Regions from separate parts of the Homo sapiens genome. Here region 1 is linked to region 2. A link means that fine-mapping ties the variant in region 2 to the expression of a gene that starts in the linked region. Tissue or cell type: whole blood. Region 2 holds a variant in brackets; the other region holds the start of a gene. All regions are shown on one strand. Distances are from middle to middle. Region 1 holds the start of CCDC174 (coiled-coil domain containing 174). Region 2 overlaps C3orf20 (chromosome 3 open reading frame 20).

Region 1 (5,381 bases), 29 kb before region 2:
GAACGGAGTGCTAGCGGCCTCGGAGGAAATCCTGTGCTCTTTTCACCAGACTAGGATGTCCCTGCCCTCCCTTTCTTCCAGAACAAACCCAGGTCCATGTATTTAGAGGGTGACTGAGTAAAGAACATACTGGGCTGGGCTTCAACTTTTGTACTTGGTAGAGGAAGGCAATTCCAGATAGACCCAGATGCTTGGAACACATAAACAAAGAGGAGAGAGTTTGAGGAAATGGGGGGATATGTGAAAAATCATTTGTATGACAGGGGAGCATTCTGGTCAATGCAAGATTAAGTTATTTTGTGCTTTTGCAGCCTGCAAAATGAGTGAGCCTGGGAATAAAGGGGACTCACTAGCTTGCTCCTGGTCATTTAAGTGGCTTGGGAGGTGGTTACAATCAGCTGGATGCCACTCTAGGGAGAATTTCTGACAAGGGTGAGGGTGCAAACCTGCATCGCTAAGATGGAGATGACAACCAAGGACCCTGACAGGCATCGTGCAGAGGAAGCTAAATTCTCATGGTCTTCAGGGACATTCACGTGCAACTAGAATTACTTTCTTTCTAGCTTTCCAGGATCAGAACACTCACTGGCTTCATTGCCAGGGTCCAGCTAGGCAAAAAAACCAACATTCATAGTTTAGAAGCTGTGTTTCTTCTATATAAATCCTTTCCTCGCTTTCTGAGATGAAGTCAGTCTATACTGGTTCCACTAGTTACAAGTAAATAACACGCCAATAATTAACTCAATGTCTTTGAGTTATTTTTTAACTGAAGGCTCCTTCACTTGCTAGCTGGGAAATGACCCCTGGCATGCCATTTAAGCAACTGAGCCTCATTTTTTTTCCTTTTAAAAAAAATTATTATTAATACCTTTTAATGTTTCACATTTTCTTTCAGAAGATTTGTAACAAAAACACATGGAATTTAGTATGTGTTTCAGTAAAATGGGTAAATACAGAATCTGAACAAGACAAGTCTATAAGGTATAATCCTTCTTGTGGGGACAGAACATTCCACTCCATTAAGAAAAGAGAATCACAACATTATTAGGCCCGATTATCTCATATTGCTTACTGTTCTAATTTCAGAGACTGGCGGACTTGGAGAAATAAACAAATGAAAATAAATAAATAAGACTGAACACAGTCAACTGCCTCAATTCCCCTCTCCTTTTCCCTTTTCCCATTTTCTCCATAAAGACAGATGAGATGAGGATGTGATGAGTCTCATTTTTCTTCTCTCTAATATGGTGGATAATAGGTCCGCTTCTAGGATTCTTGCAAGGATTATATAATATAATCTATGCAAAGAGTCATACACATGCCCCACATATACTAAATGCCACTGTTACAATCATTATGATCACTTTCGTCTTGCTGCTGTAACAAATTGCCACAAGTTTGGTGGCTTAAAACAACACAAACGTATTCTGGTAGAGTTCTGGAAGTCAGAAGTTTGAGATGAGTGTTACAAGACTAAAATCACCGTGTCAGCAATGCTGCATTCCTTCTGGAGACTCTGGAGGAGGGCTCATTTCTTTGCTTTTTCTAGCGGCCTCCTGCATACCTAGGCATGTGGTCCCACTCTCCCTCTTCAAAGCATCTCTGATCTCTGTCTGACTCTGGCCATCCTGTCTACCCCTTATAAGGATGGTTTTGATGATAGGGGACCCACCTGCACAATCCAGGCTAGCTCCCCATCTCAATCGCTTTAATTTCATCATCTCTGCCAATTCTCTTTTGCTATATAAAGGTCACCATATACCCAGATTCTGGGGATTAGAAGGTAGACATCTGGGAGTCGGGGTGAGGGTGATTGGTCTGTCTACCATAATCATTAACATTTTTATCAAGACTAGCTCATTTAACTCATCTAATCCTCACTAAGACCCATTAGGTAAATAAAATTATATCCCCCTTTGGAAACTGAGGCACACGGAAGTTAAGTAACTTGCCCAAGGTCACACAAGCAGTAAGCCGTGAAGAGCGATTCCAACCCAGAAAGTCAGCTTTCGAGTTCACGTGTTCTTTGTTTTTTTTTTTTTTGATCTCGACTCACTGCAACCTCCACCTCCCAGGTTCAAGCGATTCTTCTGCCTCAGCCTCCTGAGTAGCTGGGAATACAGGCGCGCACCACCACGCTCGGCTAATTTTTTTTTTTTCTTGTATTTTCAGCAGAGACGGGGTTTCACCATGTTGGTCAGGCTGGTCTCAAACTCCTGACCTCCTGATCCACCCGCCTCAGCCTCCCAAAGTGCTGGGATTACAGGCGTGAGCCACCGCGCCCGGCCCAGGAGTTCACGTTCTTAAGAGCTGAAATATGTAAAGTGGCCCATAATAAGCACTACATTAATGTTAGCTATTATTCTTGTTATTTCTACTAAGATTAATATAATAATCCTTATCTCGTACGCTCTTTTAAGAACCAACTATTTAACGTGTGAAAAGTGCCAGGCAGCAGGTCCTGGAATTGCAGTTAAGATTCTTCCGGTCCTCCCAATCCACCTTTCCCGAGACGCTCGAGTTCACTTACTTAAGCGTCAGCCTTCCCCAAGATGGCGTTATCTTTGTCGCCAACCCCACATCCGCCCCACCCAATATGGCGTCCATCGCAATCAAAAGCTTTATTCCGCCCTTCTCAAGATGGCGCCCACACCAATCCTTGTTACCTTCCGCCCTCAAGATGACCTTAGCAGTTAGCGTCAACCTCCGCACTCTATGACCTTTCCAAAATGATGGTGAACGTAATACGCACCACACTCTGACCTTCTCAAGATGGCGCTGAGCTGACAAACTCGCGTCGCAAACTCACGCAAACTCAGTGTCGCTGTCGAAGACACTTCCGGTTGCGACGGAGGTAGGCTTACGAGGCCTGTGTCGGGTAGAAAGGGTCCTTCCTGGACCGGGACCCTCTGCCACGACCATGGACCGTAGGAAAAAGCCTTTGGACGTCACGGCCTCCTCGGTGAGTGAGGGTATGAGGTAACTCCACGGGCTCCGGGTTCACCGTGTCTCCATCAGACAAGAATGTCGACCTAGCTTGTTTCTTCACTCGGGGACCCAGAGACCTGACCTCTCCCCTCAAACAGGAACCCCCGAACTGGATTTTCTTCTCCGGCGGGGATCCGGTTCAGTTTTCTTACAGGACCCTGAATTGGGCTACTCTCCTCTGACATGCGCCCGGGCCAGAACCCTCGGACACGGATCTGAACCTGGTGTCCCGTGGGTTAGGAAACTCCGTGCCTCACCTCTGCCCTGCCCACAAGGACCTGCACCTCGTCAGCCTTCTCCCTTACAGTCAGGAGGAACCCTAGCTTCTTTTTGCTATGCAGACATATCCTCTTCCTGGTTTCTCCTCCATCCAGGGACCCACAAAGTCCTCCCAGAACTTTAGAGTGTGACATATTTCGCAGGACCCGAAAGTGTCCAGCGTGCCCTCCCTGGAACTAAACAGTTGTTAATGCAGGCATAGGGAGTTGTGAGGTCTGAAAGGATGTAAGCAGATTTATTACATCAGCTACTCTAGAAAGAAAACTTGTTCTAAGTACACATTTTGTGCCAGCACTTTATATGCACTATCTCATTGAATCCTCCCAATGGCTTTAGGAGGTAGGTGCTATTAATATCTCCGTTTTATGGATGATGAAATTGAGGCCTGGAAAGATGAAGTAGCTTTCCCCAGCTTACAGACAGAAATCTTAGTGATAGCCGGGCGCGGTGACTCACGCCTGTAATCCCAACACTTTGGGAGGCTGAGGCGGGCAGATCACCTGAGGTCGGGAGTTTGAGACCAGTCTGACCAACATGGAGAAACCCCGTCTCTACTAAAAATAAAAAAATTAGCCGGGCGTGGTGGTGCACGCCTGTAATCCCAGCTACTCGGGAAGCTGAGGCAGGAGAATCGCTTGAACCGGGGAGGCGGAGGTTGCGGTGAGCCGAGATCGCGCAATTGCACTCCAACCTGGGCAACAAGAGCGAAACTCCGTCTAAGGGGCGGGGGGCGGGGGGAAGAAATCTTAGTGATAGACCCTTTCTCACTCACTCTACTTGACTCCAAAGCTGCTGCCTTTTCATCATCAGAGCAAATTGCCCAACCTTTGATTTAATCTTGAATTTACTTCAGAGTATTAGGACACAAAGTGAGTAGGAAGGAAAACATATAGGTGTCCCAATATTTGAGTACTAGTTATTATTGGTAACTATTATTGGTTAAAATTGGTACCAGTTATTATTTTGTTTGAAGATCAGGAACCAGAAAGCTATAAATATTAAAGCCAACCTATACTGACAGGTTAGCAGTAATTGTAATAAGAATGCTATTTGAGAATTTACATTTTTTTGAGCATCTCTTAAAGTTAAAGGCAGTTGTAGACTAGGAAGATATGTGGCTGGAAAATTTGGTGTGGTTAAGTAAGCTTAGAAGAAAAAGTAGAAGTTTTTCATTTGTTTTTAAAAATTTCCAGTATTAGGGTCTGCAGTGAAACTGCCCTTTGCATTATTAAATGGTTACCTTTTAAATCGATTTCTTCCAAAACGGAAATTGAACCCAGCCATTTTTATCTTCCTTAACAAATAAAGTGATTTTTTTAAGTATCTGATGATTAAGACAGTGATGAAGTATCTGATTTACAAATGCCCATCCATATAAGCAGCTGTACCTGGACCATTAAAAAGGAAACTGTTGTTATATCCTTTTTTGCAGAGTAGGCAGGGGTAATTAATGTAGCTGAGGGAAAGGTACTAATATTCACCCAACTGCCCCACTCCCTATGCCTTGGCCTTCTTTCCTGTTCTTGAACCGTGTGATTCAGCCAAGCTTACGGTTTTTGAAATGGATTAAGTCAAACGTGGAGCTGTTATAATTCACCCAGTCTATTTTATTTCTAGCTGTTGAAATAATGTGTCTTTAAAGGCTCTGCTCTAAGCTTTCTCTGATCACTCTGCTCAGAAGGAAATGCTCTGTTATCTGAACTTATGTGCTACTTTCTTCCACTCTAGAGTCATTTGTTTTATTTTGTTGGTAGTATAAATTACTTTCCTTGTTACATTGTAGGCTCTTTGAGGCAGAGAGTATGTCTAATTCATGTTTATGTTCTGCTCTTCAGCGTTATTTCTACAGCATTTCACTGTAGAAATAAGTTGTGATGATGAAATGAGTGCAGTGCTAGTCAGAGAGAAGGTGCTTAATAATGCAAGTTTAATCTGAAACTAAAAGATGCAGACTTTATTAATTTATTTTGCTTTATCACTTTCTCCTTGCCTAAGGAAAGCCTCGAGTGTTGAAAGTCAGAGTAAAAATGCATTTGCAGCAGAGGTAGAATGAAACATGACTTAGCTTAATTTGTGTACTGGATTCTACATTTAAACATTTAGTTACTTAAACA
Region 2 (5,320 bases):
TATCCACTCACCCCACCACACTTCCCTCCACGCTGCCAGCAGCAGAAGGAGCACCCTACAATGCAGATGCCTCCTTTGTTTGCCAACTTCAGTAGTTTCCCATCAGCTACAAGATCAAGCTCAGGCTCCTCTCACCTGGTCCTACCCTCCCCACCTCTACACTACCCTGTAGCGGCATCCAGTTCCTTGCTGTTCCACAAACTTGTCAGGGCTGTTTGGAGCCTTCAGCCTGTACAAGAGCTGTGCCCATCGCCTGTAATACAACCTTTGACCACTTCAAATAATGACCTTTTTTCTACCTAACAATTACTGAGCATTCAACTCTGTGCTGCGTGTGTGCTGACCCTTCACACACACCACCTCACTAATCCTCACAGTCCTTGAAGGTGGGGACTAGTGTCACACGTGGCCATTGGGAACATCACACAGATCAAAGGCTGGGCTCAAGGTCACATTGCCTAAACACACATTCATGTGACGTGAGAACCTTAACTCTTGCCCTCCCAGTGACACTTCCTTCTCTGGGTTTCCATTCCGCCTTGCAGAGAGCACTCTGACTTACTGTAGCCTTCTGTGTGTGTGTCTCCCCTCTCTACTGTGAGCCCCTCGAGAGCAGGGCCCATGCCTTCCCCATCCCTGTCCCAGAAGCTAACTGGAAACAGTGGAGACATGCAGCAGATTGTTGACTGAAGAAGGTGCTGCGTCCATGGTCATCCCTCATATCCTTTATAAATTTCTTATACATTTCATTCCTTTGTGGGAATTGCATCTTGAAGCTTTGTTTATAGCCATCTGCGTGGGTCCCTTAGGCTATGTGGCTGACTTTAATGCTACAGATATTTTTCCGTTTCTGGCATGTAGCAGTGCTGGGCTTAGCATTGTAGAGATTATAAAAGAGAAGACATGGCCCCTGCCCTCCAATTGCAGAGATGAGACCATATGGAACACAATTAGCCATTAAAGACAATACATTTCAGTATTTGCATGGAGTATTTGATTATATAGCACATGCAAATTCTTTGGAATGACATACAAGGCCCTGCAAGATCTGATTCTAGGCCACTTTCCCAGTTTCATCTGCTGCTCTCCCACGGATCCCCCCACATCCCAGACATACTGAGGTGTGTGCAGTCCTCTGAGCCCACCATGCTTCCAATGTCACCATCTCTTTGTAGGTGCTGTTTCTTCTTCCTAGAATGCCTGTCTTGTTCCTATCTGCCTGGCAACTTCTTACTCATCTTTTAGAACACTGTCTAGTGCCAGTTCTTTCCTTTTTGTTTTTGTTTTTGTTTTCATGGCCTTTGTATGTTTTTCTGTAGTGTGACCCTTATCACATAAGTCAGTTTTGTAAGTCTGCTCTGCCTGTTCATTGTTGAGTTACTTTAGGTCAAGATCCATGTCTCAGTGATGGAAAAATGAATGACAAAATAGAAATTGGATAAATGGGAAGGAAGGAGTGATGATCTAACATGGCTGGGGGTCAGTGGGGAATCACTTTCATTGGCCAGAATAGAGAGCTAAATAAAGTGGCTTAAAGGCATTAGAGGTTCATTTGCATGTGGAAAAAGCCTGGAGGTGGATGGTTGAGTGCTGGTGTGGGTGCCACAATGTCATCAGGAGCCCGGGCTCTGCTGCGCAGCTTGGCCACCTTTAATGCGAAGTTTCCCTCTTCAGGGTAACCTCGTGGCTCAAAATGGTTGCTGGAGCTGCAGCCATCTTATCCATTTCAGGCAAGAAGGACTAGAGAGGTCAGCTGGTACAAAAAAAAAAAATTATGTTCATTCCCTGAAGGCAGTCTCCTTCAAACAGATTTCTCAGGGTCCTTTACCCAGGAGCTTCATCTGCATCTCAGGCCAGGATGTAGTCACATGTTCACCTCTGAGTTTGGAAGAGATGTAAATATACAGCAATAAACATAGGTTATCTCCACATTTAATTTAAAATGACATTGCTTTTTAAAACAGTTTTTAGGTCTGAATACACATTTCTCAAAAAAAGATATAAAATGGCCAATAAGCATATGAAAAGATGCTTAGGGAATTAGTCATTAGGGAAATACAAATCAGAACCACAATGAGACATAATTTCACATCTACCAGGATAGCACTAGAGTCAAAAAGGCATAATAACAAGTGCTGGCAAAGAGAGAAATTAGAATTCTCAAAACGCCACTGGTGGGACTGTGAAATGTTACAGCAGTCTGGCAAGCCCTCACAAAGTTAAACACTTGAGTTACCCCATGACCCAGCAATCCCACTTCTAGGTATACATATGTGAGAGAATGAAAACATACATCCACACAAAAGCTTATGTATGCATATTCATAGCACTATTCATAATAGCCAAAAAATAAAAATAACCAAAATGCCCATTAACAAATGAGTGGATCAACAAATTGTGGTATATCCATACAGTGGAATATTACTCTGTCATTAAAAGGAGTGAAGTACTGATACATGCTATATAACATGGATGAATTTAAAAAACATTACAGCAAGTGAAAGAAGACAGTCACAAAAAAACCCACATAGTTGATGATCCTATTTTTATGAAATGTCCAGAACAGGCAAATCCACAGAGACAGAAACTAGACGAATGGTTGCCTGAGGGTGAGGGGAAACAGGGAGTGACTGATGATGGGTTTTGTGTGGGGGCAATAGAATGTTCTAAAATTTGATAGTAATGGTTATACAACTCTGAATATACTAAAAGCCATTGTACACACGTTAAAAAGGGTGGATTGTATGTGAATTCTATCT[CAAT/C]AAAGCTGTTCAAAAATTCAGTTTTTATCTGTAAGATATATCTTCAAAATTAACCTCAAAAAACAAAGGAACTGGTGGCAGGGGGGATAAGTTTCCCAAACCAGTTAATATTTCAAGACTTATATTAGTTATCTCCTTCTTCTCATTTAAGTCCTGACTTAAAAAAAAATCTGCCCTGCACAGTCAGGATCAGATCCCTCTGGCTGGTTGCCCAGATGACCGGGATTCTGAGTGGTTTCTTTGTCCTGTGGACTTATCATTTCAAAAACAAAGCTCTTTTTCCCAATCTGCAAAGCTGAGGAATGGAGATGCCAGGAGGTCAACAAATAGGCGTAGGAAGCCACTATCTGCAAACCAGCAGGATGCTGGAAGGGTTTGCTCTTTGGGGCTCATGTTCCTTGGAGATTTTGTTATTGATAGATGGACAGAGGCAGGTCAGAGGCCATGAAAAATTAGTGTGGTGTTTGGAAAGGCCTCTGTGCCAGGAGTCTGCAGATGGGTGACTCCTGACCAAGAGCTCTGATTCCCAGCAAAACAAGAAAGATGATAGCCTTCTCACCACTGGGTGGGCACACGAGCTCGTGGCTGTGAGCCTGCCCTGTAAACATGGAAGGTGGGCACCAGGCAGGCCATCCTGGAATGGCGAACTTGGGGTGGCTCCAGAGGGTTTGAAAAGGGAAAGGGAGCATTGTCTAGTGGAAAAGAAGACGTAGGTGTGTTGGCTGGAGTGGTTGTCAGGATAAAAGGTGGTCGAAGAGATGGTTGGACAGCTGCACTCACTCACAAGTGTGGTCAGAAGCCTTGGGCCAGCAGCCCTTCCTGGTAAGTGGGCTGGTTAGGGTTGTTGGAGTTGGGCAACAGGAACAACTCGCTGACTCTGCATCAAGATGCTGGAGATGGCCATCAGCATCTAAGTCTCCCTGGGGTTGACCTTTGCTACGTGCTGTGGATTCTTGAGTCTTTCACGGAGGCTCACACTCTCATAAAGTCCCTTGGGAATTACAAGAAACAAATCATTTTTGTGTAGCATAAGATGTGACTAGTTTTAATTTGATATATTATTAAAGACTGCTATCAGGTTCATTTTGTTCAGAAAAATGAAACTTTCAGGATCTGGTTACAAAACTCTGCCAGTGTATTTACAGGTTTTTCTAGCCATTTTTTTGCTTATTAAATTGTTCTTTATGCTTCCTTTCTTCAACCAGTGGTCTATTTTTGGTATAAGTTAAGAAGGTAAGAATAAAACACAATGTAGAAATATGTCAGGGTAAACATTACTGTAGTATTAAAGTGGAAAAATATTTATTATAGTCCATTGATTTTCAGGCACATTTTCCAACTTTAACATCTCTGAAATTGTAATATGTCTTACAGTCAATGGCAGCTTACATTCATTTTTTTCTTATAAGATGGTGCATCTTTTGATCACTAATGTCTTGGATTTGATGAAATTTGGCAAATTATATTAGTGATTGAGCTTAGTAAATGCATTGTCCTCATTCTTTCCTGTCTGCCCTCAGATGTACACGTTGGATAATTCCATGCCCATCTTGGCATTGCGACCAGGAGCTTCTGCATCCCTTGCTTCCAAAGCGAACCAGTGAAACATCTTTTTATTCTTGCAGGTTCTTAATGATTGACCACAAGCAGATCTTTCACCCTCGGATCTCTAGCTACAAAAGGTGCAATGGGACCTTTCTCTCTTCCCCAGCCCTTCCATTCCTCCAGCCCCCCCAGGGTCCTATACCCAGTTTGTGTGACTGTCCTTGAAGCTTTCCTGGAACCATACTTATCATCAGACCTTTCCCAAAGTGACTCACTAACATTGGTCTCTCTGATGGTGTCTCTGGGTAGGTAAGGGACGGGGGACCTCCCCTTGCCCTACTATGGGGAGAGTGACTAACTCTTTTCTTGTCCTTTCCGGATAGGAACCACTGGCTCAATGACCTGTAAGGGCCGTTTCAGCACATCCATTCTGTCCATCTCCAAGCCTTCACCGTAGGGAAGAACTTTTGCTCTCAGTCACCTCTCAGAGAGCTCTCTTTATAGCTGAAGGTCCCTCTCATGAGTTACATCAAGAGTAACCTAGAATTATATCAGCAATACACAGCCATGGCCCCCAAGCTACTGGCCCGCATCTCCAAACTCCTCATGATCTGCCAGAATGCAGGCATTTCTGTACCAAAAGGCATCAGAAACATCTTTGAGTTCACTTGGGAAGAGCTCATCAGTGACCCTTCAGTGCCTACCCCGTCCGACATCTTGGGCCTGGAGGTCAGCTTTGGAGCCCCCCTGGTGGTGCTCATGGAACCCACCTTTGTGCAGGTCCCCACACTGAAGAAGCCACTACCTCCACCACCACCAGCACCACCACGTCCAGTGCTGCTGGCAACCACTGGGGCAGCCAAGCGCTCCACCCTCTCTCCCACCATGGCCCGTCAGGTGCGCACCCACCAGGAGACCCTGAACAGGTTTCAGCAGCAGTCCATCCACCTGCTGACGGAGCTCCTCAGACTGAAGATGAAGGCCATGGTGGAGTCTATGTCGGGTAAGGCCCA

What was found.
Region 1: CCDC174 starts here. The variant in region 2 is fine-mapped to the expression of CCDC174 in whole blood (TOPMed, PIP above 0.99). The same link has a PIP of 0.9 or more in testis.

Annotation. Positions count from the first base shown.
Region 1 is chr3:14,648,917-14,654,297 of GRCh38, forward strand. It overlaps CCDC174 (coiled-coil domain containing 174), which reads left to right and starts at 2,846. Exons shown (of 11, transcript NM_016474.5): 1 at 2,846-2,962. The coding sequence starts at 2,921. It overlaps LOC124909347 (a long non-coding RNA gene), which reads right to left and starts at 3,205. Exons shown (of 2, transcript XR_007095826.1): 1 at 2,753-3,205; 2 at 1-2,310. RefSeq lists enhancers at 2,387-3,045, 2,549-2,948, 3,089-3,158.
Region 2 is chr3:14,677,888-14,683,207 of GRCh38, forward strand. It overlaps C3orf20 (chromosome 3 open reading frame 20), which reads left to right. Exons shown (of 17, transcript NM_032137.5): 2 at 4,283-4,444; 3 at 4,691-5,310. The coding sequence starts at 4,827. Among named protein-coding and RNA genes, the nearest start is that of C3orf20, 5.4 kb to the left of the region's middle. RefSeq lists a silencer at 2,891-3,091. The variant CAAT/C (reference allele first, on the strand shown) is at 2,760.